Linked DNA regions of Homo sapiens. The protein of the gene in region 1 purifies or fractionates together with the protein of each later gene. This does not show direct contact. Each region holds a gene or a part of one and is shown in the gene's direction. Other genes may lie near its edges. The genes, in order: CCS, ATOX1, POGLUT3, PPA1, NIT2, SUCLG1 and DPH5.

Region 1 (3,500 bases):
ACACTGGGCCCTCACCAATACTCTGTGAGGCACATACACACAGGCACAACCTCCAGATGAGGAAACTGAGGCTCACAGAGGTTAAATGACTTGCCAAAGGTCCACAGCAGGTAAAAGGTAGAGTTGGGGTTTGAGTCAAGATCTGACCTTGGCTGGGCACAGTAGCTCACACCTGTAATCTAGCACTTTGGGAGGCTGAGGTGGGCGGATCACCTGAGGTCAGGAGTTCAAGACCAGCCTGGCCAACATGGTGAAACCCCATCTCTACTAACAATACAAAAAAAAATTAGCCAGGTGCAGTGGCATGTGCCCATAATCCCAGCTACTAGGGAGGCCCGTAATCTCCTGAGGCAGGAGAATCACTTGAACTCAGGAGGTGGAGGTTGTGGTGAGCTGAGATTGCACCACGGCACTCCAGCTCAGGGGTGACAGGGCAAAACTCTGTCTCAAGAAAAAAAATAAAATCTGATCTTGAAGGTCCTGCTTATAACCACCTTACTGCCTCTGAGATGGAAGGGGACTTCTGGACACAGCAAAGGAAGGGTCCCCATGCCATGGTGTTTGTCATGCTGTGATATAACTAGTTGTTTACTCATCTGTGAGTCCCCTGAGCCAGAAGCTTATTCAGGACAGGACCCATGTCTGATTCTTCTCGGTGCCCTCTACCCAAAGCCCAGCACAGAGTAGGCCTGTTTGTTGAATGAATGAATGAATGAATGAATGAAGCAAATATAAATAGATGAGAGGGTAGAGCACCTGGCCTGTGAGCTGCTTTCCTGCCCACCTGTTTCCTTTCTTTCTTAGCTGTGGGAATCACTTTAACCCTGATGGAGCATCTCATGGGGGCCCCCAGGACTCTGACCGGGTAAGTGTCTGTCTGGGTTTGGGCTTGGGCTGAGAGAGGACCCAAAGTCTCAGAGGCAGGGCAGGCAGCTCTTGGGATCATAACAGTGTGATTCCTTTTTGGTGGAGTCTTTTCCTCTCATTTTATTTTGCTGAGTTTGGAAACATTTGTTGACACTTTCTGTGATCAAGGCCCAGGGGATACAATAGATTACAGCCCCAGTGCCTGACCCAAGGAGCACACAGTCTCTGGGGGAGATTACTGAATTCCATGGTTTCCAGGCAGTGAGATCATCCTTGCAGGAGCCTGCAAGAGGTCCTGGAGCCCACAGTGAATAGTTCATCTGCCTGAGGGGCAGGGGCAGTGGGAGGAAGTGAAATATGGAAGTTGAGGGTTTTACCTAAACTGAAAAGGCTGTCCCTGGTGTTCCCTAACACCCCGGTCCTGGAGTTTCATTTTTCAGCAGAGAATCATTTCCCAATCTTCAGGGAATTGTGTGTTGCCTTAATGATTTTTGCCTTATCTGAGTACTAGTTGTATTTTTAGTTACTCAATCATTTGGTTTTTTTATTTTATTTTCTGAGATGGAGTTTTGTTCTTATTGCCCAGGCTAGAGTGCAATGGCGCAGTCCCAGCTCATTGCAACCTCCGCCTCCCAAGTTCAAACGATTCTCCTGCCTCAGCCTCCCTAATAGCTGGGACTACAGGTGCACACCACCACACCCGGGTAATTTTTGTATTTTTAGTAGAGATGGGGTTTCACCAGGTTGGCCAGGCAGTCTTGAACTCCTGACCTCAAGTGATCCACCCACCTCAGCCTCCCAAAGTGCTGGGATTACAGGCGTGAGCCACTGTGCCCGGCTCTGACTGGGCTATTTTCTATCTTGATGGGTTTGCAACCTTGTGCCACAAAACAATTGAAACCATGGTATGTGTTGCTTAATGCATGTTACTGATTTTTTGGACTTTTCACAGCTCTGTTACCTATCATGCTTTTCTTTTCTTCTGTTTCTTTTCCTTTTCCTTTCTCCCCTCCCCTCCCCTCCCCTCTCCTTTCCGAGATAGGATCTCACTCTGTTGCCCATGCTGGAGTGCAGTGCTGTGATCATGGCTCACTACAGCCTTGAACTCATGGGCTCAAGCAATCCTCCCACCTCACCTGATAGCTGGGACCACAAGCATGTACCATTATGCCCAGCTAATTTTTTTTTTTTGTTTTTTTGGTGGTAGAAATAGGGTGTCACTATGTTCCTCAGGCTGGTCTCAAACTGCTGGGCTTGAGCAGACCTCCCTCCTCGGCCTCCCAGTGTTAGGATTATGAGCATGAGCCAGCATGCCTGGCCTCTGCCACATTTTTTTTTTTTCTTTTTCTTTTTTTTATTTTTAGTAGAAACGAGGTTTTGCCATGTTGGCCAGGCTGGTCTTGAAGTCCCAACCTCAAGTGATCCGCCTGCCTTGGCCTCCCAAAGTGCTGGGATTACAGGCATGAGCCACTGTGCCCAACCACCCTGTCACATTTCTAATGATCAAAAGTTTTTACTCCCTGTTCTGGGAAATTGGAGAGGCATTTCTTATAGAGTCCATTGCACAGTGCCATGCTTATGCTCAGTGATTAGTAATCTGCTGCTGCAAATCAAATGACTCCAAAGTTAGGAGTTTAAAACAACAAACATATACTGTCTCTGGGGCAGGAATTTGTGTGTGACTTAGCTGGGTGCCTGCAGCTCAGGGTCTCTCTCGGGGCTGCAGTCATCTCAGGGCCCCACGTGGGGAGAATCTGCTTCCAGGTTTGCTCATGTTGCTGTTGGCAGGCCCCAGGTCCTCCTTGGCTGTTGGCCAGAGACATCAGTTCTTTGCCACATGGGTCTCTCCCTAGGGCAGCTAACAACACGGCAGTTGGCTTCTCTCAGAGTGAATGAGCGAGAGAGAGAGAGATTGAGATTGAGAGAGGGCGTCCAAGACTCAAGCCACATTCTTTTTGTAACCTAATCTTAGAAGTGACACTAGGTCCAGCCCACACTCAAGGGAGGCACATCATAGAGGCCATTCGCCTCATGCAGCCTTGAAAGATGATGGGCAGGAAGTAGGCATTGAAGAGGGTAAGAGTGGGATTGGCAAGCCCAGCAAAAGAAACTGCCCGGGCAAAGCCCTCAAGGCATGGAATGGCAGGGAGTGTTTCTGAAGGGCAGGAGCCTGTCTTGTGACCTGTGTTTTCTTCCTGGGCCCCAGGTGGGGCAGGGAATCAGAAGGGGCTGGCATCAGCAGCTGTACCTCACCCAATCCCTTAACTTAGACAAGGAAGAACTGAGCAGGAGCTGACCAGCCAAGGCCACGGTGACTGGCAAGTTGCTGTTGGGTTTTAGCATCTGCTTTTCCCAGGTGGAAAAGAATTCCATGTGGGAATTTGCATTCAAGCCTGGTTGTCCCTTGCACATCTCCTAACTGATCTCTAAGCTCCCTTCTGTTCTCTCCTCACCCTGCTCCAGTCTTTACTTTTCATAGACTGCACTAGAAGGATTGTTCTGAAGCCTGGAGTAACCAGGCCATGCCCCTGCCTGAAACTTGTCTTGGCTCCCAGTGCCTGAGAGTACAAGCTGGGCCTAGCTTCTTGATGTGGACATTCAATACCCCACTCCCCCTGCCTATTGCCCCTGCC
Region 2 (3,155 bases), on another chromosome or scaffold:
CACTCCTGGCTGCCACTGCCCATGTAGTGCATTTGACTCGTGAATTACAATGATCGCCACACCTCTGATGTGGTTTGGTGCCCTGACGTGACTGAGAAAAATGAGGCCAAGAGAGGGGAAGTGATTCAACCAGAGTCCCACCCTGGTGAGTAGCAGAGGCAGGAAGAAAGTCAGATATCCTGAATCGGAGTTCTGTAACTGTTACTGGTGGCATTGTCCCTGTGAATGGGCCCACAGAGACCCCCTGGACAGAGGCTAGCCACACTGACTGGTAGGTCCTCTTTGAGGATAGCCTCCTTCCCAAAGGCATACATTTGGAACCTGAGTCATAGCAGTGTTCTGTGTATGTGGTAACATCACATGCAAGTTACAAGATGTCAGATGCATCTGTTTTCGTCATGCACTTTCCATCCATAGATAGAACCCATATTCAGGAATGAACCCAGGATGAATAATGAGGAATCTAGGATTCTAATTCCAACTTTCCTCATTTCACACTGACTTTGGGGACTTTTTACATTACAGAGATTTGGTCTTCCCATCGGTAAAATGGGGCTAAAACCTCCAACCTGCTTTCCTGCCTTGTGGGGACTGCTGTGCAATCTCTCCACATATGAAAGTTTATCCTCTAGGGAAGTAAAACATCAGCGGTTTCCAGCATGTTGAAGAACAGTGTTTCTTACATCATTCCTCCACCCCTAGGGTTTTGTAGGGAGGGTGAGTGGATGGGGCTTTGGACCCTCCATAGCTCCCAAACGGTCCTGTGTCATATTGGGCTTCCCGTAAGACTGTATTTTATAAAAACGCTCTGTAACAAGAAGGAATGGAGGCAGAGAAGGAAAAAAATACTCTTCCTGAACTAGCTATATACATGGGGAGCCCTAATGCACACATCTTGGATTAGAAACTCCAGGCCTGGGCATACGAACTTTTTTAACTAAAAAAGTAATATCTGTTGGATGTAAACCATGTGTAGCTTAATGTGTTTTTCTCATAGAAAACATGTTTTCTCATGTTATTTTATTGAGATGAAATTCACAAGACATAATAACTATTTTAACCCATTTATGCTGAATATTGCAAAGTTTTTTATGTGAAAAATCAAACCTTGGTGATGACCTTGAACAGTAGGATATAAATAACTCCTGCAAGCTTAGCGTTCCAATAATGGAACACTAGGCATAAATGGGTTAAAGTCTATCATTTAGTGGCATTTGGTGTGTTCACAATGTTGTATGACCACCATCTCTCTCTAGTTTCAAAATTTTTTCATCATCTCAGAAACACACCCTGTATCCATTAAGAAGTCACTCCCCACTACCCATCTCTCCATCCCCTGGCAGCCACTAATTTGCTTTCTGCTACTCTGGATTTGCCTACCCTGGACATGTCATATAAAAAGAATTACATTATATGTGACCTTTTTGTGTCTGCCTTTTTCCATGTAGCATAATGTTTTCAAGATTCATTCAAGTCATAGCATGTGTTGTAAATCATTCCTTCCAATACTTAATAATTTTCATGGTACTTTTAATCTACTTTAGATTTTTTATGATAGGAAGTTTCAAACATGTGTAAGTAGAGTAATAGAATGAATCCCCAAGTACCCGTCACTCAGATCCAACAGTTAGTATTTATTTCACCAAGGCCTGTTATTTTTTGATAAAAGTGCTCTGTGACAAGAAGGAATTAAGGAAGAGAAGGAAAAAAACTCTTCTGGAGCTATCTGTATCCATGTGGGGGAGCCCTAATGCACACATCTTGGATTAGAAACTCCACTGTCCTCATTGTTTCATCTGGGTGATGAAACACCCAGATTATTTTGAAGCAAATTCTAGACATCATGCCCACTCCCTCCTGCCCAGATTATTTTGAAGCAAATTCTAGACATCATGCAATCTTACCTGTACATATTTCAGTAACCATGTATTGTTTGGAAAGGCTCCTGGAAATTCAGATGCACAGTACTCAGTAAGAATCACCCAATAAGCCAGCTTTAGTCCACATGCTCAGGCAGCATGTCTTTGAAGTCTGTTTTAAGAGGCTCCTCAGTGACTGATTTGAAGCCAGGCTTGGGAACCTCAAAGATAGAGTGTTTATTGGTTTTGAAGTCACCTTGATCATCTGACTCTTGGCAGATTTATTTGCCATGATTTTGTTCATTGCCTTTCCAACCTGTAACAGGATAGAGAGTGCTGTTGACTGGGTATCCTGGCAGCCCTGGAAATTCCCCAGAAGAGGGCTTTGGCAGTGATTGGCTTAGCAAGGTTAATGCGTTCCAGCCAACCTAAGTATAACAGACTTCATGGGAGCAGTGTGCAGGGCTGGACACTGGGGCTCTAGTCCTGCTCCTGCATCTGCACCCTGCGTTTTCCACCTCACCCCTGCCTTTTAGTGCAAGACTCTTAGTGCACCCCTGCGTCACCCCTGTCTCTTAGTGCATTTATTGCCTTTGCAATGTCGCTATGTCCACACCAGATGGCACCTTTGTTCCATCTAACTTTCCATCTTTCCTAGGATGCTGATCCTCCCGCTGGCTTCCAGACAGACCTGGGACTTGGCAGTCATGCCGGGTGATGGTGTTCCTGCGGAGACCCTCAGTTGTCCTATTCCTTCCTAGCTTCCCTGCAATAAAATCAAGCTGCTTTTGTTGGAGATGTTGTCTTGCCTGGTCTTGGTGTTGCTTGCTCACATGTAGGTGGTTATGCTTACTTGGGTTGGAGTTTTGAGAGTTCCCACCTGGGAGTCAGACACCCTGTAGATTCTGATTCTTTGCTGTGTGATCTTTAGCAAATCACTTCCCCTCTCTGGGCCTCATTTTTTCCTCACCTATAAAGTGGAGGCATTGACCCAGAACAGTGATCCCCTTTCTTTTCACCAGTTTCATAGACTCTATATTTTGAAAAAATTTGTCTATCAAGTGAATTGCACAAGAGATTATCAAATGTTAAGCAAGTGGAATAGTAGGAAGAGGCTGTGGAGACAAACTGCCTGGGATAGAGTTCAAGCTCCAGTACCTCCTAGCTGGGCCACTTAACCTCTCAGTGTCCACAGACAAAATGTGATGATAGCATCTACTGCAAATGGTGGTTGTGGGGATTAAATGAAATGAAACATGTAAATTAATTACAGCAGTGATTGCTGGTTAAAAAATC
Region 3 (3,500 bases), about 42 Mb from region 1:
GAGCCACCATGTCCGGCCCCTGTAGCCTCATTCTTAAGTTATAATTCCATTATGTTCTGGCTTTCCCATGCTGTTCACTTTCAACCCCACATCTGTCCCACCTCACACTTAACCCTCTCTTTGTGGGTCGCAGTAGTAATTTTCATTCATTTTTATTTTTTTTAACCTTTCAGGAAAATGATGAAGAAGCCAAGAAGATTGCAAAAGAAGGACAGTTGATGGCTAGGGACCTACTACAGCCACACAGGCTTTACTGCTACTATTACCAAGTACTGCAGGTCAGTTCAGAGTGTCCGTCCACACTGCTGGGTCGGGTGTCCTCAGACTACCCGCTTGGCCTGTACACTTCCTGCCTGGCTTCCTGAAGGACTCACAGTCAAGCCTATGGACCACTGGCTAAGCCAAGGCACTTGCCTAGGGAAAGATAGTGCTAAGTCTTCATTTGGTGGCCCCCTTTTTTTTGTTTTTTGTTTGTTTGTTTGTTTTGAGATGAAGTCTCACTCTGTCATGCAGGCTGGAGTGCAGTGTCTCAATCTCAGCTCACTGCAGCCTCTGCCTTCCAGGTTCAAGCAATTCTGCCTCAGACTCCCAAGTAGCTGGGATTACAGGTACACGCCACCATGCCCAGCTAATTTTTGTATTTTTAGTAGAAACGGAGTTTCGCCATGTTGGCCAGGCTGGTCTTGAACTCCTGGCCTCAGGTGATCTGCCTTGCCTTGGCCTCCTGAAGTGCTGGGATACAGGTGTGAGCCACCACGCCCAGCCGTGGCCTCCATATTTTCATCTTTATTCCATATTATGTAAAACGACGCTGGGAGCCCTCACAAATATAGATTAGCAACTCCTCCCATCTTCTCAGTGCTCTCTTTTATTAAATGCTTTATTGAATTCCTAGTGTAGGTGTTCTGGAACCTCAGAGAAAAACATTTTTTCTTATTTGGAAAACAAGATGGTTGGACTGGAGATCATTAACATCCCTTTTTACTCAAAATGTCGCCTCCTTATTCTCCTTGATACTTAAGATTCATGCCTTTTATAGTACAAGGCAGAATGCAAATATTTAGCTTGCTGTAGCAAACAAACTAATGAGAAATATGTATAACAGTTCTAACACCTTAGGGCTGAATCCTGAAGTATAGTGTTTATTGGGAATCCGAGGATTGGTCTTTTGAGTAACTACCTTGAGTTTTACTCAGAAAAATCTAGACAGGAAGAATAAAAAAAGGAAATTATGTTCTTGTTTTTAACCTAAATTTATTTTTCTGTAGGCATAGTAAAAGTAAATTTCCCTAGATGCTTGTGGATACTACCCTCTCATATTTTCATTTTCATAGAAAAATAAAAATGATAAGTTACACTATTTACTAGAAGCAGCCCTTCCTTCCCTTAAATTGGTCTGTCCCCTCTGTTGGTCTAGCTTTAATCGTTAAACAGTTTTTTTAACAATTTCTTGGCCGGGTGCAGTGGCTCACACCTGTAATCCCAGCACTTTGGGAGGTCGAGGAGGGTGGATCACCTGAGGTCAGGAGTTCAAGACCAGCCTGGCCATCATGGTCAAACCCCGTCTCTACTAAAAATACAAAATTAGCCAGGTGTGGTGGCACATGCCTGTAATCTCAACTACTCAGGAGGCTGAGGCAGGAGAATCGCTTGAACCTGGGAGGCAGAGGTTGCAGTGAGCCTAGATTGCACCACTGCACTCCAGCCTGGGCAACAAGAGCAAAATGCATCTAAAAATATATATATTTCTTACTCGGTCACCTAGGCTGGAGTGCAGTGGCATGATCACAGCTTACTGCAGCCTCAACCTCCTAGGATCAAGCGATTCTTCCCCCCTCCCACCTCAGCCTCCCACTAGTAGCTGGGACTACACCACCACACTCAGCTAATTTATTTATTTTTTTTAGAAACAAGCTCTTGCCGTGTTTCCCTGGTTCCTCAAGTGATTCTCCAGCCTCAGCCTCCCAAATAGTTTCAATTTTAATGTTAGGAATTTCTCTCTCTAAAATATTAATTAGGCTTATCTACTGTGTCAACATTTTGTTGCATTTGGTCCAGTACCAGGAATATACAGCAAAAGGGACATGGAATCATTGAATTGAAATATCCAATTTATGTCTGGGCAGGGTGGCTCATGCCTGTAGTCCCAGCACTTTGGGAGGCTGAGGTAGGCAGATTGCTTGAGTCCAGGAGTTGAAGACCAGGCTGTGCAACATGGTGAAACGCCATCTCTACAAAAAATGAAAAAAATTAGCTGGGCATGGTGGTACGCGCCTGTAGTCCCAGCTACTTAGGAGACTGAGGTGTAAGGATCACTTGAGCCTAGGATGTTGGAGGCTGCAGTGAGCCAAGATCACGCCACTGCACTCCAGCCTCAGTGACAGAGTAAGACCGTGTCTCAAAAAAAAAAAAAAACAAAAACAAAAAAAACTCCATTTATAGAAATATTTCACTCAGGGCCACAGTGGAGGAACATTACACAGACCTGTTGCCATTCAAAAATGCGTGTGACTATAGGCCTAAAAGAAAGAATGTGTGAGACTGCCAACTTTTCAGATGGTTATCTTGTTTGTTTGCTGGCTTGAGTATTCAACAAAGTTAATTATTCAATAACAAGTGGAAAATAAATGCTGAGAGCTGCTGTTTGTTTCAGGTAGGGACGTCTGGCTTGGCATCCCTTTTGTAGAGGCTTCCAACCAACACATAAAATTGTGGATTGGGGTTTCTTGCTAGATTATGAATTATAACTAGTGCCTGTGATAGCTAAAGTTAAAATGTAACTTTAGGACTGGAATAAACCAGACCTTTGGTTTTAGTCTGCAGACACACAGCAACTAGAAAAGATGGCGTGACTGCGGATGGGAGTGGGTGGGGGAGTCAACAGAATGCAGTGTGAACTAACCTTTCAGTTCCCTTTAAACCCACGTTTCAGAAATATGCCGAGCGCCAGTCCAGCAAACCCGAAGTACGTGATGGAATGGAACTTGTTCCTCAGCCAGAAGATAGCACAGCCATCTGCCAGTGCCACAGGAAAAAGCCTTCAAGAGAAGAACTTTGAGTCAGCCCAGAATCACACTCCTGTGTATCCCGGCTACACTTTAAGGAAAGATTGAATCTAAGCTGTGAAGGACAGTATAGAAGACTGCACCAAGTGGACTAGTTCTCCCGGTGGCTTTATATATGTAGATGGATATAGCAGTACTGGTTGAGTATCCCTCATCTGAAATGCTTAGGACCAGGAGTGTTTCAGGCTTCAGATTTTTTAAGATTTGGGAATATTTGCATGTACATAATGAGGTATCTTGGGGATGAGATCCAAGTCTAAACACAAAATTCATTTATATTTTATATATACCTTGTTCACATACCCTGAAGGTAATTTTATATAATATTTTTAATAATTTGTGCATGAAACAAAGTTTGTATACATTGAACTGTCAGAAAGCAAAGGTGTCACTATCTTAGCGACCCAAGTGGTGGTGTCAGCACTCAAAAAGTTT
Region 4 (3,500 bases), on another chromosome or scaffold:
TTTTTTTCAGGTGATTGTTGGGAGCGTATAGAAGCATATATAAATATGGAATATGTGTTTCTTTTTTCCCCTTCTGAAAGAAAGTCAAGCCTCTAATCAAATAGATTGATGCTTCAGAAACTTAACAGAATATTATCTGCAATTTGGCATAAATGCATTTTTCTTGGGGAAGTTTCCACGCTCAAAATTATTAGTCATTGCAAAACAGAAAAGTTTGACAACTGGAAATGCAGACCCTTTTGCTTGATTTTGTAAAGACAGGAAAATAAACAGATTATGCTTAGAATATCTGTTTTCAAAATTTAGTCATCATAAAGCTTATCTGAAAAGAAAAAATAGCAAAAATAGCAGCTTTTTCTTTCTTTTTCTTTTTTTTTTTAAGACAGGGTCTCACTCTGTCACCCATGCAGTGCTGTGATCTTGGCTCACTGCAGGCTCCATCTCCTGGGCTCGAGCAATCCTCCCACCTCAGTCTCCTGAGTAGCTGGGACTACAGGCACACACCACCGTACCTGGCTAATTTTTTTGTATTGGTAGAGACAGGCTTTCGCTGGTCTCGAACTCCTGAGCTCAAACAGTCCACCCACCTCAGCTCCCAAAGTGCTGGGATTACAGGTGTGCGCTCCCACACCCAGCCAGCAGCTTATTCTTAATTATGACATGACAAATTAAGTTATTGCTCTACACAGGTACATATGGTAGTGTGTAGTAGCAAATACAGGCATTTGTTTGAGCTGCAATGAGTAGAAAATCTATGTAACTGGAAAACAAATGAGTATTACTAAAAGTTTTGTGTGTATGTGTTTTAATTTCTTTACTTTAATAAGTTAATGATCTCCCTTGGAATCTTAACACAATTTGTTGAACAAATGTTTTTTGGGTTGGTGTAAGTCATGTCTTTCTTTGCTAAGTCACAATTCTAAGTGAATAAGGGGCACAACAGTGTGAACTTCGGTCATCGTATTTCTTTCTGATAGCTTCTCAAATAGACTTCTGTCACTTTCGATGAAATACTTCAGGTATCCATATACTTTTAACAACTTAGAGTATATCCTTCTAGAATCATATAACCAACTTTACAGCCAAAACTTAGAATTAAGAGCCATTGTCATTTGGTGAGCAGTGAATAAGATAAAGTATTCTTGGAAATGGTGAAATCTGGTATACCTTTTCGAAAGCATCTTTATGGGGATGGAACATTTTCTTTTAACTACGTGAGCTCTTCTGATAGGGATTTTATACTCCAAAACTAGTCTATAAGTTCCAAAAAAAAAAAAAAAGTTAAAGCTTGGTTTGGATTAGTTTCTTGCTTTATGTTTATGCTCTAGATAAATTTAGAAGAAAATTCTCTCTACCTCTACTGTTTTTTCTCCAAATTTTATTGCAAAACAATAAAGATTAAAAAATGGGGGGTGGGCTGGGTGCCGTGGCTTATGCCCGTAATTCTAGCACTCTGGGCAGCCTAGGTGGACGAATTGCTTGAGCTCAGGAGTTCATGACCAGCCTCAGCAACATGGTGAAACCCGGTCTTTACCAAAAATAGAAAAAAAAAAATTAGCTGGGTGTGGTGGCAGGTGCCTGTGGTCCAGGAGGCAGAGGTAGGAGGATCACTTGAGCCCCGGAGACGGAGGTTGCAGTGAGCTGAGATCATGCCACTGCACTTCAGCCTGGGTGACAGGTGAGACTCTGTCTCTAAATAAATAAATAAATAAATAAGAGTGGTGGGACCACAGGGTGATTTTTGTGTTTCTTTCTAAGCCTGGTATTTACTAGATTTCTGAAGTTATCTAGAGAAACACACAATGAGTCAACTTGAAAATGCTAATGTCAGCCACTTGGTATAATTCTGTAGTATAGTTCATCGAATTTACCAAATCCAGGGTTAGAAATAAATCTCAATGCTGGGCGCGGTGGCTCATGCCTGTAATCCCAACACTTTGGGGGGCCAAGGTGGGCGGATCACCTGAGGTCGGGAGCTCGAGACCAGCCTGACCAACATGGAGAAACCCTGTCTCTACTAAAAATACAAAAATTAGCTGGGCATGGTGGTGCATGCCTGTAATCCCAGCTACTCGGGAGGCTGAGGCAGGAGAATTGCTTGAACCCGGGAGACGGAGGTTGCAGTGAGCCGAGATTGCACCATTGTGCTCCAGCCTGGGTAACAAGAGCGAAACTCTGTCTCAAAAAATAAAATAAAATAAATAAATAAGAAATAAGTCTCAATAAAGACACATTGAACTTAACTGCTAGGATTTAAAGACGTGCTGTAATTAAATTAAGAGCATGTTCCCTATATATGTACTTAACTGCATTAGTAATAACAGCCTACCAAATGGCCGTAGCCTATTTATTAGTAAACAACTTGTCAGACTACTGACTTGGTCCATAAGACCCTAACCAGTTTGGAGATGAGACGGGGCCTCACCATACTACTGTGATTAATATTCCTGTTTAATTAGTGAAGTTACACACCTAACCAAGATATAGGAGATATTTCTTCTATTCCTGAAACATTTTTATTTTAAATATTTTTGATTAATGGAGTGACATAATGTAGAGTTGTTGAGTTTCCAGTTTCCTTAGAATCTGGACATCTTTAATGTTTTGTTGTAACATCTTGACTACTTGATAAAATGATTGTAAATCTGGGAAGGGAAATAGACTTTTTTTTTTTTTTTTTTTTGTAGAGACAGGGTCTGTCTATGTTGCTCAGGCTGGTCTTGAACTCCTAGTCTAAGCAATCCTCTTGCCTCAGCCTCCCAAAGTGCTAGGTTTACAGGCACGAGCCACCATACCTGGCCTGAAATAGACAGTTATATTTCTGACTTTGGGAACAAGAGCTAAAGTTATAGTTTGCCTTTTCCCTTATCCCCCACTGGTTTATCAGCAAGGTAATTATTGAGTTTATCAAAATCATCCCTCTAGGGAGACTTAACTTCCTTCTTTTCTGAAACTGTTAACAGAGAGCTGAGAGCTCTGATGCCAGAGCAATGACTGAGACTCCAAAGCATGGTAGGATTGGAGGATGGAGTTCTGGGAAGTCCTAACAGTGGGAGTAACAAGATAGTAAATCCAAGATCCAGCTAAGTAAAAGCTGAAACCAGTTGGGATTAAAGAAGAAGGAATGAATTTGTAACTGGGTAGTACGAAATTTCTTAAAATCAGTATTTTTTAAGTGCGTGAATATTGGAATCATTAGAATGCATAAAAACAGTAATAGTTTTTATAGCAACTCTGTTGCTATAAAATTCATTGAATTTCTCATATCAGTTGCCCTGAAAAATCCTAAATATCACTGTTGTTCACCTAGTAGCAACTCTTTGAATTGTAGCCAGATGTCTAGAAGAAGGTTGTTCTTTAGTAGTAATTCCTGCTAAAGTATGTGGAACACCCCCTCCTTACAAGTACAGAGCTGGGCAGGATGGCTTGCACCTGTAGTCCCAGCTACTAGGGATGCATAGGCAGGAGGATCACTTGAGGCTAGGAATTAGAGACCAGCC
Region 5 (3,500 bases), on another chromosome or scaffold:
TCTCGGAATTGTGCCACTCATTTTTTCACCAAATACGGGTGTTCCAGAAACTATCATGGCACGGGTGGGTGTGTGATTTAGTATGTTAATGAGCTTATAATGAGGATAATGAAGTCCTAGGTGAAACCTAGGTCAAACCCAGCACCATATTGAGTCCACTGGGTCTTAGCCCTAGTTTCTCAGGGTCTTAGCCCCTAGCGTAGGCAGCTATTTCAACAGTTTCTTTTTGCTAGTCATATGAAACTGCTGCCTGGAATTTTCTGTTCTCTTGCGACCGTCCTGTATTATTTCTGTCTCAAAGTCACATGTGATTTTGGTCATCAACACCACTTTTCTTGTGTGTCCATATGTGTGTGACTTACGTGTTCGTATTAAAGGAATTCAGAGCCATATCTTAATTGCTGCTGGCACTGTCTGACTTGGCTGACATCTTTTTATGTTTGGGAAAGTTTGAGTTCAGTTCCTGCTAGATAAGGAACAGTGGGGAGGACTGGTTTTGTTGAGTGCTCACTGCATCCACTGTTCTTTGGCTTTTCTCTCCCCAAGGCTGCCAGCTGTTGGTATATCCAGGAGCTTTTAATCTGACCACTGGACCAGCCCATTGGGAGTTACTTCAGCGAAGCCGGTAAGAAAGGAACCATATATTCAAGCCTCTCGGCATGTCCTCTTTGTAGAAAGATTTCCGGTTGGGTGGAGGTGCCAGCCTTCCTGATGTGGATTCTGTCCCTGACTCAGGATGCCCTTGTATCCAAATGCAGTTGGAAAGGATGAAGCTATAAGGAGGACTTCTACTGCACGTCACTTTCTCCTCAGAAGCCACAATACCAACCTCATGGATTTTGGAAACTGTACTTTTTTTTTTTTTTTTTTCTTTTTAAGAGACGGGTCTTACCATTGCCCAGGCTGGAGTGCAGTGGTGTAATCATAGCTCATTACAGCCTTGAAATCCTGGGCTCAAGAGATCGTCCTGCCTCAGCCTCCTGAGTAGCTGGGACTACAAACATGCGCCACCATGCCTTGCTAATTTTTTATTTTTTGTAGAGATAGAGCCTCACTCTGTTGATCAAGCTGGTCTCAATCTCCTGGCCTCAAGCGATCTTCCCGCCTCAGCTTTTCAAAGTGCTGGGATTACAGGTGTGAGCCCCAAGCCCTGCCGGAACTGTGGTTTTGGCATTTTCAATATTCAGTGTATTAGATGGGAAGGGATTTCATTTTTCTGTGATTAGATGTGGATTGGTCCCTCTTAAGTCAGTTCCAGCAACTTTTACAGAGAAATTGAGAACCACAGAGCTTATGTCTTCAGAGCCCCAGAAGCCAATTAAAAGGCAGGGATTAGTTTAGCTTGACCTAGGGAGAGATTTGTGGTCTGTACCCAGCTGATTCTATGCCATTCAGATCAGGATGCTTATCCTACCCCCTCCTTCACACCATCCTACTAGTCCTGAGGGTACTGTGCCAAGAAACTCATGAGAAGCTCTTGTTCTTCTAACCTATAACTCCAGGGCTTTGCACAAGCATCTTTGGCAGGTCACAGGTGCCTTTCCTTAGTCTTCTAAGGCTGAGAGGTGGTGAAGGGCAAATAGCATAGGTGGACATAAGATGGAAGGGAAAATGAATGTGACTGTGAGTGTGTCTGTCTGTCTGTAAAGTGCTCTACAGCCCATGAAATGCTGGTCTGAGATGATGGTTTTCTTTAGAATTTTTAAAAGTTGAAGTAATACAAAAAAAGTGTACTAATTTTAAGCATAGAGGTTGGTGAATTTTTGTGTATTCACCTGCCACCAAGATGAACATAACAGAACATTTCCAGCCCCCGAGGATGCTCCCTTTTTTGCCCCTTTCTAGTTAGTACTCCTCCCTCTGCCTAGAGGTAGCTGCTGTTCTCACTTCTAGAGATGGTGGTAATGTTTAATGTAAGGGAAAGAGGTTTTAGCTGGTTGCATGGTGGAAGATGGGGGTAGGGGTATAAGATGCCATGAGTATCAGTGAAGGTACAGTTTTGTCAAAAGTGAGAAGTTTCTGGGATACTGAGATGACCCAGCATGGGTCTGTTAAGTCTCGAGGGCTCCGAGGTGAGGTGCTTTGGTGTACCTGGACTGCGAGCTGCAATTTTTGTTCTATTTGAGGTGGTGGGACTGCCACCATGGGCATGGAAGCGCCATGTGGCCTGCAAGGTGTATTGCTCTCATAAGGCCACTCCATTCTCTCCGGCCACCTTGACTTGCTTTAACCAGAGAAGCTCTTCTCTTATGTTAGCTTATAGCAGGCTTTCTCAGCAGTGGCACTGTTGACATTTAGGTGTGTAATTCTTTGTGTGGGGGCTGTCCTGTGCATGGTAGGATGTTTAGCAGCATCTGTGGCCTCTACCTGCTCGATGTCAGTAGCATCTCCTTAGTCACGACAGTCAGGAAGATCTCTAGACATTGTCAAATTTGGTGGGCAACATTGCTCCTTGCTGAGAACCACTGGCTTATGCAGTAAGGTAACTTTGCACAATGTGCAGGTTAGTTACATATGTATACGTGTGCCATGCTGGTGTGCTGCACCCATTAACTCGTCATTTAGCATTAGGTATATCTCCTAAAGCTATCTCTCCCCCCTGCCCCCACCCCACAACAGTCCCCAGAGTGTGATGTTCCCCTTCGTGTGTCCATGTGTTCTCATTGTTCAATTCCCACCTATGAGTGAGAATATGCGGTGTTTGGTTTTTTGTGCTTGCAATAGTTTACTGAGAATGATGATTTCCAATTTCATCCATGTCCCTACAAAGGACATGAACTCATCATTTTTTATGGCTGCATAGTATTCCATGGTGTATATGTGCCACATTTTCTTAATCCAGTCTATCATTGTTGGACATTTGGGTTGGTTCCAAGTCTTTGTTATTGTGAATAGTGCTGCAATAAACATATGTGTGCATGTGTCTTTATAGCAGCATGATTTATAGTCCTTTGGGTATATACCCAGCTACCAATGACTTTCTTCACAGAATTGGAAAAAACTAAAGTTCATATGGAACCAAAAAAGAGCCCGCATCGCCAAGTCAATCCTAAGCCAACAGAACAAAGCTGGAGGCATCACGCTACCTGACTTCAAACTATACTACAAGGCTACAGTAATCAAAACAGCATGGTACTGGTACCAAAACAGAGATATAGATCAATGGAACAGAACAGAGCCCTCAGAAATAACGCCGCATATCTACAACTATCTGATCTTTGACAAACCTGAGAAAAACAAGCAATGGGGAAAGGATTCCCTATTTAATAAATGGTGCTGGGAAAACTGGCTAGCCATATGTAGAAAGCTGAAACTGGATCCCTTCCTTACACTTTATACAAAAGTTAATTCAAGATGGATTAAAGACTTAAACGTTGGACCTAAAACCATAAAAACCCTAGAAGAAAACCTAGGCATTACCATTCAGGACATAGGCATGGGCAAGGACTTCATGTCTAAAACACCAAAAGCAATGACAACAAAAGCCAAAATTGACAAAT
Region 6 (3,500 bases), on another chromosome or scaffold:
CATTTAAAAATATAAGAGAGAAGGGTAAGAAAAATGACAAACTAGTTAAAAACATTTATTGACCTAAATTCCATGGTTCACCCTTAAATTTCCAGCTATTGATATTTTTCAACTTTTTCAGGCATTGGAGGTGATCCTTTTAATGGAACAGATTTTATTGACTGCCTCGAAATCTTTTTGAACGATTCTGCCACAGAAGGCATCATATTGATTGGTGAAATTGGTGGTAATGCAGAAGAGAATGCTGCAGAATTTTTGAAGCAACATAATTCAGTAAGTTTGGGTTTGGAAAAACATAGCTCTTTGCTCTTAATATCAGAGGCTTGTTTCAGAAGTTATTTTTATTTTTTCAAAGGTGAATTTTTTGAGAAAACATGAAAGATAAAACTTTCTGAGCAGGGCCTTCTATACTGGACACTCAGACAATTCTGTATTATTTCTGGGTTGATTCTCTGCTTCTCTATTCTGAACTCTCCTCCCCAGGCATCACCCCACACTTTGTGGTAGGTAAGTCGTTCTCCTGCTGAACAGATACATTCAGGCCATCAGCCCGAGAGCCCGCACTTGACCTGCAGACTTGGTTTTCACCTGTGACCAGTATTCTTTCTCCCGATCTCAGAGGGAAATAAGTGGTTTTTTCTCTTTTTCAAGGCTGACCTAAAGATCCTATCCCTTGTGCTTTTTTTCAGGCTCTGGCTTCCTTCCAGTTTTAGACTTTCCTTGTGGAATGGCACTTCCCTTCAGAGATCAAGTAGAAAAGCTTTACTGTCTATGTCCTGGGGAGGCTTTCCTTGTTGCTTCTCACTTAGAATTAAATGTAAAGGAGTAGTGTTGAGTTATGTCATCATTTCATTCAGCTTGAGGGAGTTAAGCCCTGTTCCTGTGGTGAAAGGAGAGATGGGGGTGCGGTAGTGACTGAAGCAGTGTGGTGGCCACCAGCCCCCACTCAGTGAATTTGTGCTGTGGCCATTGTTGTGTCAGAGAACTGTGGGAAAAAAATCAAGCAACTGATTTTCAGAATTTCTCTTATACTGAGGAATGAGTGAAAATTTTTCTTCAGGGGACCAGGCAAGAGAGTGGAGATCACTTTCTCTCTATATGTATGAAAAAAATCCACCAGTGAATGAATTAAATGCCACATAAAATAATACTGGAGAGTTAAAGGAACCAATAATATCATGTACAGGGTGGTTTACACAAAACAAGGCATATTTATTTGTGTTTTAAGGAATTTTCAAGGGCTATTTTGAATATACTTGATTTTCTTTTGTGGTGATTTTAAGCCCTAACTCCCATATTAGATATGACTCAGGTTTACCCTCATTCTCTCATTCTCTTTCCTTACTTTTCATTCATTCTTGAATCCTCAGCAATCAGGCTCCTGTCTGTCACTTAGAAGCTATATGACCTTGGGAATGCTTAATCTCTCGTTGCCTCAGGTTCCTTATTGGAAAAATGACGATATAGTAGTGCCTGCCTCCTAGAGTTATTGTAAGGACTGCGAAGTTTAAATGACTTAGTAACGTATAGCAAAGTAGTGCCCGGCACTTAGTAAGCACTCTTACTGAGCCACTGGCTGCTGTGGAATCTTCTTACTCTCCTGACATTGTGTTTGCACAGAGGTCACCAGTGGCCTTGATTCATTCGTCATCCTCTCCATCCTCTTGGTTTCTTTCTGGTTTTCCTCCTCTTTATCATTCCCTGGATCTATTTTCTGTGCCTATTTCTATGGCAGAAACCTGAGAACTAACTTTTATTTCTCTCTTATCCTGTTTCTACTCAGTTACCAAGATCTGTCTCTGAGACATCAGAGGTTTGTCTGGATTCAGAGCCTTGTCTGTACTTAGTCCATCTACTTTGGTTTGGGTCCTCATCCCATCTCATCTGGACCATCTCAGTGGTTTCCTTCTTGATCTCTCTTATTTTCTCCAACCACCCCCCTTTACTCTTAGGCCATTCTGTTTATGGCCACCCAAATTATCTGCCCTTCTGAAACATGGGTATTGGTGCTGTTTGTCCTTGGTTCACATCAGACAGTGTTTCCCATGTAATGTTTCCCATTACATGTCAGCTAAAGGCAGATTTAGCATGGTATTCCAGTCCTTCACATACCATCCAAACCTTCCCTTTTAGATCAGTTTTCCATCTGACATGCCAGTTTTCATTCTCACTTGCCTTTGCTTGTTCCTTCTGCAAGGAATGCTTAGTATCTGACTTTCACTCTAGACTGTGTTATGGACTGCAGGGAACTGTTAACTTCAGTGCCCTGCCCAGTCCCCTGGCACAGTGGGCACCAATACAGGTCATGTAAATGGAAGAGTAGATTGTTAAGGATTGGAGTAAAATGTTAGATTCCCTTGTGTTCAGAAAGTTGTACAGTTTGAAATATAAGTAAAAACTGACTTCTTTAAAAAAAAAAGTTTCGGTTAATACAGCATTGTGCTGTGTTAAGTTGAATTTAAAATGTATTTGGGCCCAATTCTGAATCCCTGGAATAGCCTAGTATTTAGTGGGAAAAATGAAACATAGACATTTTGTTTCATTTGGCAACATGTTTCCTATTCCTGGTTAGTTGTTATGGAATTAATTTTTATTGAGAACCTAATGTGTACAAGATTGTAAGTTAAGCAGTTCAGATGCTGCATTATATAAAATGCCTAGTGTAATACTTGGTGTAAACACTCGATAAACATGATCTGCTGCTGCCTTTCTTGTTATCATTACAATGATGATAATTATTTGCAAACGTTCTGGTGTTTAACTTTTATCCTGATGCTTTGGTAAGTTGTTTTTGTTCTTTCTTTATGAATGAGAAAACTGGTACAGGAAGATTAGTAACTTGACAATGGTAGGTATACAGCAAACGAACTGGGGTGAGATTCATACCCAGGTTTGTCTGACTTCTCCATTTCACCATGGAAGGATGAGGTGTCAGATTGAAGGAGTTAAGGACAAAGAGTCATCAATCCTGGGCATAGGCTCAGACTACACTGATAGCATTCTAACTGGCCTTTCTGTTTTTAGACATACCTTTCATCATTTTTGTGTCCTATTTTCAGACTACACTTCCCCATAGTCTTTTAGTTGTAGTTCTCTCCACTTAAAAAACAAAAACAAATAAGCCTCCAATGGCTCTTTGTTAATGGGACAGATGCAAATTTGTTTGCCATTCTAGGCTCAACAAAGTCTTGATCCTTTCTAGTGCAACAATATTCCCACTTTTTGGGGAACAGGGGAGTGGAATCAAATACAAATTAATGCCACTCAAACATGAGATTCTCATATTCTATGTAGATCTTATGAGTGAATGAGTAAATAATTTGTGGAGTCTTTTCTTTTTAATTCTATACCATAGGTACTACAGTAGGTGCCAGGCATACCGAAGTTAGTGAAAATATAACCTCTGTGTTCAGGGAATTCATAGTTTAGTAGAAGAACACACGGGGAATAGGTTATAGCCAGTGTGCTGAATTTAATAGTAGAAGGGTGTAAAAGGCACA
Region 7 (3,500 bases), on another chromosome or scaffold:
CCCGTCTCAACCTCCCAAAGTGCTGGGATGATGGGCTTGAGCCACTGCACCCGGCCCCCCTTTTATTCTTGGCATCTAATTAATTATAGATCTAGATTAGGCCATAAACGCTTCTCTAACACATTTTCTTTGGTCTTATGCCAATATTTGCAATCAGCTAGTATGATGTTTTCTTATTTTAGTTTATTGCCAGTGTGATTTAGTGCTTCATTCATCATTAATTATCTTTATAATTTTGTCTTTGAATTTTCCTTGTAAAAAGAGACTGGTCTTACTTTTTTTATAGTCCTTACTAACAAGGACACTGTAAGACTTGTGAGTTGGTGTGGACTATGCCATCAGATATATCCATCTTGTTATCCCAAAGTTAGATCCAGTTAAGGCCAGCTGTGGGTAGAAGGTCAAAGTAGATGACGGGCGAAGGATAATTTTTAAAAGGACTTTTGCTAAAGAAGTAGATGTATCTGAGGGATGAAAAATGGGGATTCATTGGAGCTCAGATACTAGAATATATGTTTTATAACAGTACTGAAAGGTTCTAAAACAGAACAGGGAAGGAAGAATCTGAGAGGCAGGCTACCTGATAACCTCCCCATATATCCATTAAAAATGACAGGAAAGGCCGGGTGCGGTGGCTCACGCCTGTAATCCCAGCACTTTGGGAGGCTGAGGCGGGTGGATCACGAGGTCAGAAGATCGAGACCATCTTGACTAACACGGTGAAACCCCATCTCTACTAAAAATACAAAAAATTAGCCGGGCGTGGTGGCAGGTGCCTGTAATCTCAGCTACTCGGGAGGCTGAGACAAGAGAATGGTGTGAACCCAGGAGGCGGAGCTTGCATTGAGCTGAGATTGCACCACTGCACTCCAGCCTGGACCACAGAGCGAGACTCCTTCTCAAAAGCAAAAAAAAAAGATAGGAAGGAGAGGAAGCAGCACTTATCTTTTCAGAAGCTTTGGAAAGGCAGATAGAAGATCAGTGTACAGGTATTTATTGAGTGCTTACCCTATGCCCCATGTAGAGTTAGTTTCTTTTGGAATACTAAGGAAGTGTAGACGTGGGTCCTGCTCTCAAAGCTTTGAAATCTAGTTTGGAACTAATGTGTTGTGCACGTGAAAGTTTAAAGAACAAAAATTCTATTGTATGGAGAGGCAGGAAGGACAAACTAGAAATGTGGCTCTTGAGTTGTCCTTCTAAGAGCTGCCCCTTTTCTTAGCTTTCCTGGGAAAAGACAAACAAGGTTAAACAATGTATCTTCCTTGCTCCATTAACAAAAGCAGGAAGGAACAGAGTGTGAAGTATAGGATGTCATGATTTCAAATCCTCAAACCATAGTTCTCATCGTTTTATCATCTGGCATTCTCATTATTTAAATTAGTATGTATTTATTCAATGCCTGCTGTGGGTTAAGTTCCATAGGGATTAGTGAGGATAAACCATGGCAGGAAAACACAGAGAATTTAAAATTTACTTAGAAAGACAAGACCAATATATATGATATAATTAGAGGTTAATAAAAGATAGCATTAATTGTGTAGATCTTTCCAAGAACAAAAAGCATTTGAGGAGAAGTCAACAAAGACTTTATGAAGGAGTTAGGACTTACGTTGCCCAGAGAGTGGATAGTTTAATATGGGCTGGTGACTGAGTGGTAGGAGAGTCACTTGAGTAAATTTATTCAGTAGACATTTATGGAGTGTCTTCTGGGTACTTCACATTATGCTAGGTCCTGGTACTAAGATGAATCAGAGAACCTTACATTCTAGCAAGTAGAAATAGAGAGGAATAATTATGGACTGTGTGAAGACAAGGGAAAAGTAATGCGGGGTCTGGCTTGAGACGAAGTCACGAATGCACTCCTTGATTAAAAAGGATTTGCGTCTAAAAATTCTCCTCAACCCTCTTCCTTTTAAAAATCAGATTCTATAGAGCATATTTGAAAAGTAAAGACAACTGAAAATATGAAAAATCTCATCACAACATTTCAGAAGCTCAGAGTGAATGAATTAATAAACGGGTTAAAATTTTTAAAATCTTAGAAACGTAATTTAAAGGAAATCTGAAAGTTGACTAACACCATTGATTATAGGGAGGCCACATTCTTAATAACAGGCATTCGTTTTTTTCTCCATAATGTGACAGACAAGTAGAAATATTAAATAAATAATGATATTTCAAACCTGAAAAAGGCTTTCAATGCTGGTTCCAAGAACATTTAAAAATATGTATTTAATATTAACTCTGCTATAATTTCCAAGCAAACTCTTTGATATCCTTTATAAGAAACACTTCTATAATCACTTAGGAAATCTGCATAAGTCTATTAAAGACTCCTCAGTTGCACTATGTTTATTTTTGCAAAAACAAACTTTGGCTGAACCATTTGTTTTCAGCATGTAAAGCAGGAAGCAGCTGTTGCTGTTGCTGTTGTATACTGAGTTCCTTTGAGGATGTAGAGTGATTCTGCTTTTTTACCTTTTACCAAATAGTTCAGTTGAGCATGAGTGATTAAAAAGTATACCGAATCAAATATTTGTGATGCTTGGACTGTCAAGCTTCTAGAGAGCAGAGTTTATATCTGGTCAGGTCCCTGTGGTATCCCAGTCTCTGACGCAGCGTCTGACACACAGTCCATGCTCAAATCCCTGTTAAAAGCATGAATACTTAGAATTAAAGTATTTATTCAAAATTATGGCATGTGTTAACATTCGTCAGAAAGCAAAAGACTTTTTTAAATGTGGAAAAGATTTTTTTCTACTTACATTACATCTATCAAAGGGCTTTCAGATGGGTCTGTGCAGTTACTAGCTGGTAGAAATGAAAACAAAGATTGTGATTAGCTGTTAGTAGTGTATATGCCAATGTTTATCTAATTCTTTCCCTTGTCTTCTTTTCCAAAAGGAAATTAGATGTTAGCAGGATGGTCTCAGGGCCAAGTTCATGTTTGTTTTCTAACTAGTGGCACAACCACAAGCTTCCATTCTTCTCTATGTTACTGTAAGAAAGTGGCTAATTAAAATGTGAGGGAAGAGTGTTTCCCCAAAATTTAGGTGACTCTTAACTGAGGTTTACACATAGGGTTTTGGATAAAGCTTTTAATTAAATTAAAAGAACTATTTTTACTTCCTACAGACATCAAAGTAAAGGAGCAGTCTTTGGAAAATCTAATCAAGTAAGTTATTATTCTGAGAATGCATACATGTGTTTTATTTCCTTGAACAATTCAATACATTCTACTTAAATGACCTGAGTTCTAAAGATGGTTGAAAATGAGCTCTCATTAACAGTGTGAACATTAAGCATTTTTATTCTTACGAAATGATAAGCAGTATAATAGAGTAGAAATAGCAATATATTTTGTGGATTCAACACTGAGAACAGTGGTTGGCATCTAACAGACACTCAGTGTTTGTGGAATGAATTAATGCGTTGGGATTCTGAAAACATGGGTGTGAGGCCGGGTGCGGTTGTTCATGCCTGTAGTCCCAGCACTTTGG

The links.
Region 2: the proteins of CCS (region 1) and ATOX1 fractionate together in Homo sapiens (co-fractionation; one large-scale study listed by BioGRID). This does not show direct contact.
Region 3: the proteins of CCS (region 1) and POGLUT3 fractionate together in Homo sapiens (co-fractionation; one large-scale study listed by BioGRID). This does not show direct contact.
Region 4: the proteins of CCS (region 1) and PPA1 fractionate together in Homo sapiens (co-fractionation; one large-scale study listed by BioGRID). This does not show direct contact.
Region 5: the proteins of CCS (region 1) and NIT2 fractionate together in Homo sapiens (co-fractionation; one large-scale study listed by BioGRID). This does not show direct contact.
Region 6: the proteins of CCS (region 1) and SUCLG1 fractionate together in Homo sapiens (co-fractionation; one large-scale study listed by BioGRID). This does not show direct contact.
Region 7: the proteins of CCS (region 1) and DPH5 fractionate together in Homo sapiens (co-fractionation; one large-scale study listed by BioGRID). This does not show direct contact.

The regions. Positions count from the first base shown.
Region 1 is NC_000011.10:66,599,685-66,603,184, forward strand, and holds part of CCS (copper chaperone for superoxide dismutase), read left to right. Parts: intron 1-804; coding exon 805-865; intron 866-3,500. UniProt on the Homo sapiens protein: Delivers copper to copper zinc superoxide dismutase (SOD1).
Region 2 is NC_000005.10:151,742,322-151,745,476, reverse strand, and holds the end of ATOX1 (copper transport protein ATOX1), read left to right. Parts: intron 1-2,517; 3' UTR 2,518-2,655; downstream 2,656-3,155. UniProt on the Homo sapiens protein: Binds and deliver cytosolic copper to the copper ATPase proteins. May be important in cellular antioxidant defense.
Region 3 is NC_000011.10:108,474,385-108,477,884, reverse strand, and holds part of POGLUT3 (protein O-glucosyltransferase 3 isoform 1 precursor), read left to right. Parts: intron 1-173; coding exon 174-278; intron 279-2,932; coding exon 2,933-3,058; 3' UTR 3,059-3,500. UniProt on the Homo sapiens protein: Protein glucosyltransferase that catalyzes the transfer of glucose from UDP-glucose to a serine residue within the consensus sequence peptide C-X-N-T-X-G-S-F-X-C. Can also catalyze the transfer of xylose from UDP-xylose but less efficiently.
Region 4 is NC_000010.11:70,223,430-70,226,929, reverse strand, and holds part of PPA1 (inorganic pyrophosphatase), read left to right. Parts: intron 1-3,500.
Region 5 is NC_000003.12:100,348,257-100,351,756, forward strand, and holds part of NIT2 (omega-amidase NIT2), read left to right. Parts: intron 1-546; coding exon 547-625; intron 626-3,500. UniProt on the Homo sapiens protein: Has omega-amidase activity. The role of omega-amidase is to remove potentially toxic intermediates by converting 2-oxoglutaramate and 2-oxosuccinamate to biologically useful 2-oxoglutarate and oxaloacetate, respectively.
Region 6 is NC_000002.12:84,428,281-84,431,780, reverse strand, and holds part of SUCLG1 (succinate--CoA ligase [ADP/GDP-forming] subunit alpha, mitochondrial precursor), read left to right. Parts: intron 1-121; coding exon 122-273; intron 274-3,500. UniProt on the Homo sapiens protein: Succinyl-CoA synthetase functions in the citric acid cycle (TCA), coupling the hydrolysis of succinyl-CoA to the synthesis of either ATP or GTP and thus represents the only step of substrate-level phosphorylation in the TCA.
Region 7 is NC_000001.11:100,994,785-100,998,284, reverse strand, and holds part of DPH5 (diphthine methyl ester synthase), read left to right. Parts: intron 1-2,206; exon of another isoform or gene 2,207-2,811; intron 2,812-3,135; coding exon 3,136-3,175; intron 3,176-3,500. UniProt on the Homo sapiens protein: S-adenosyl-L-methionine-dependent methyltransferase that catalyzes four methylations of the modified target histidine residue in translation elongation factor 2 (EF-2), to form an intermediate called diphthine methyl ester.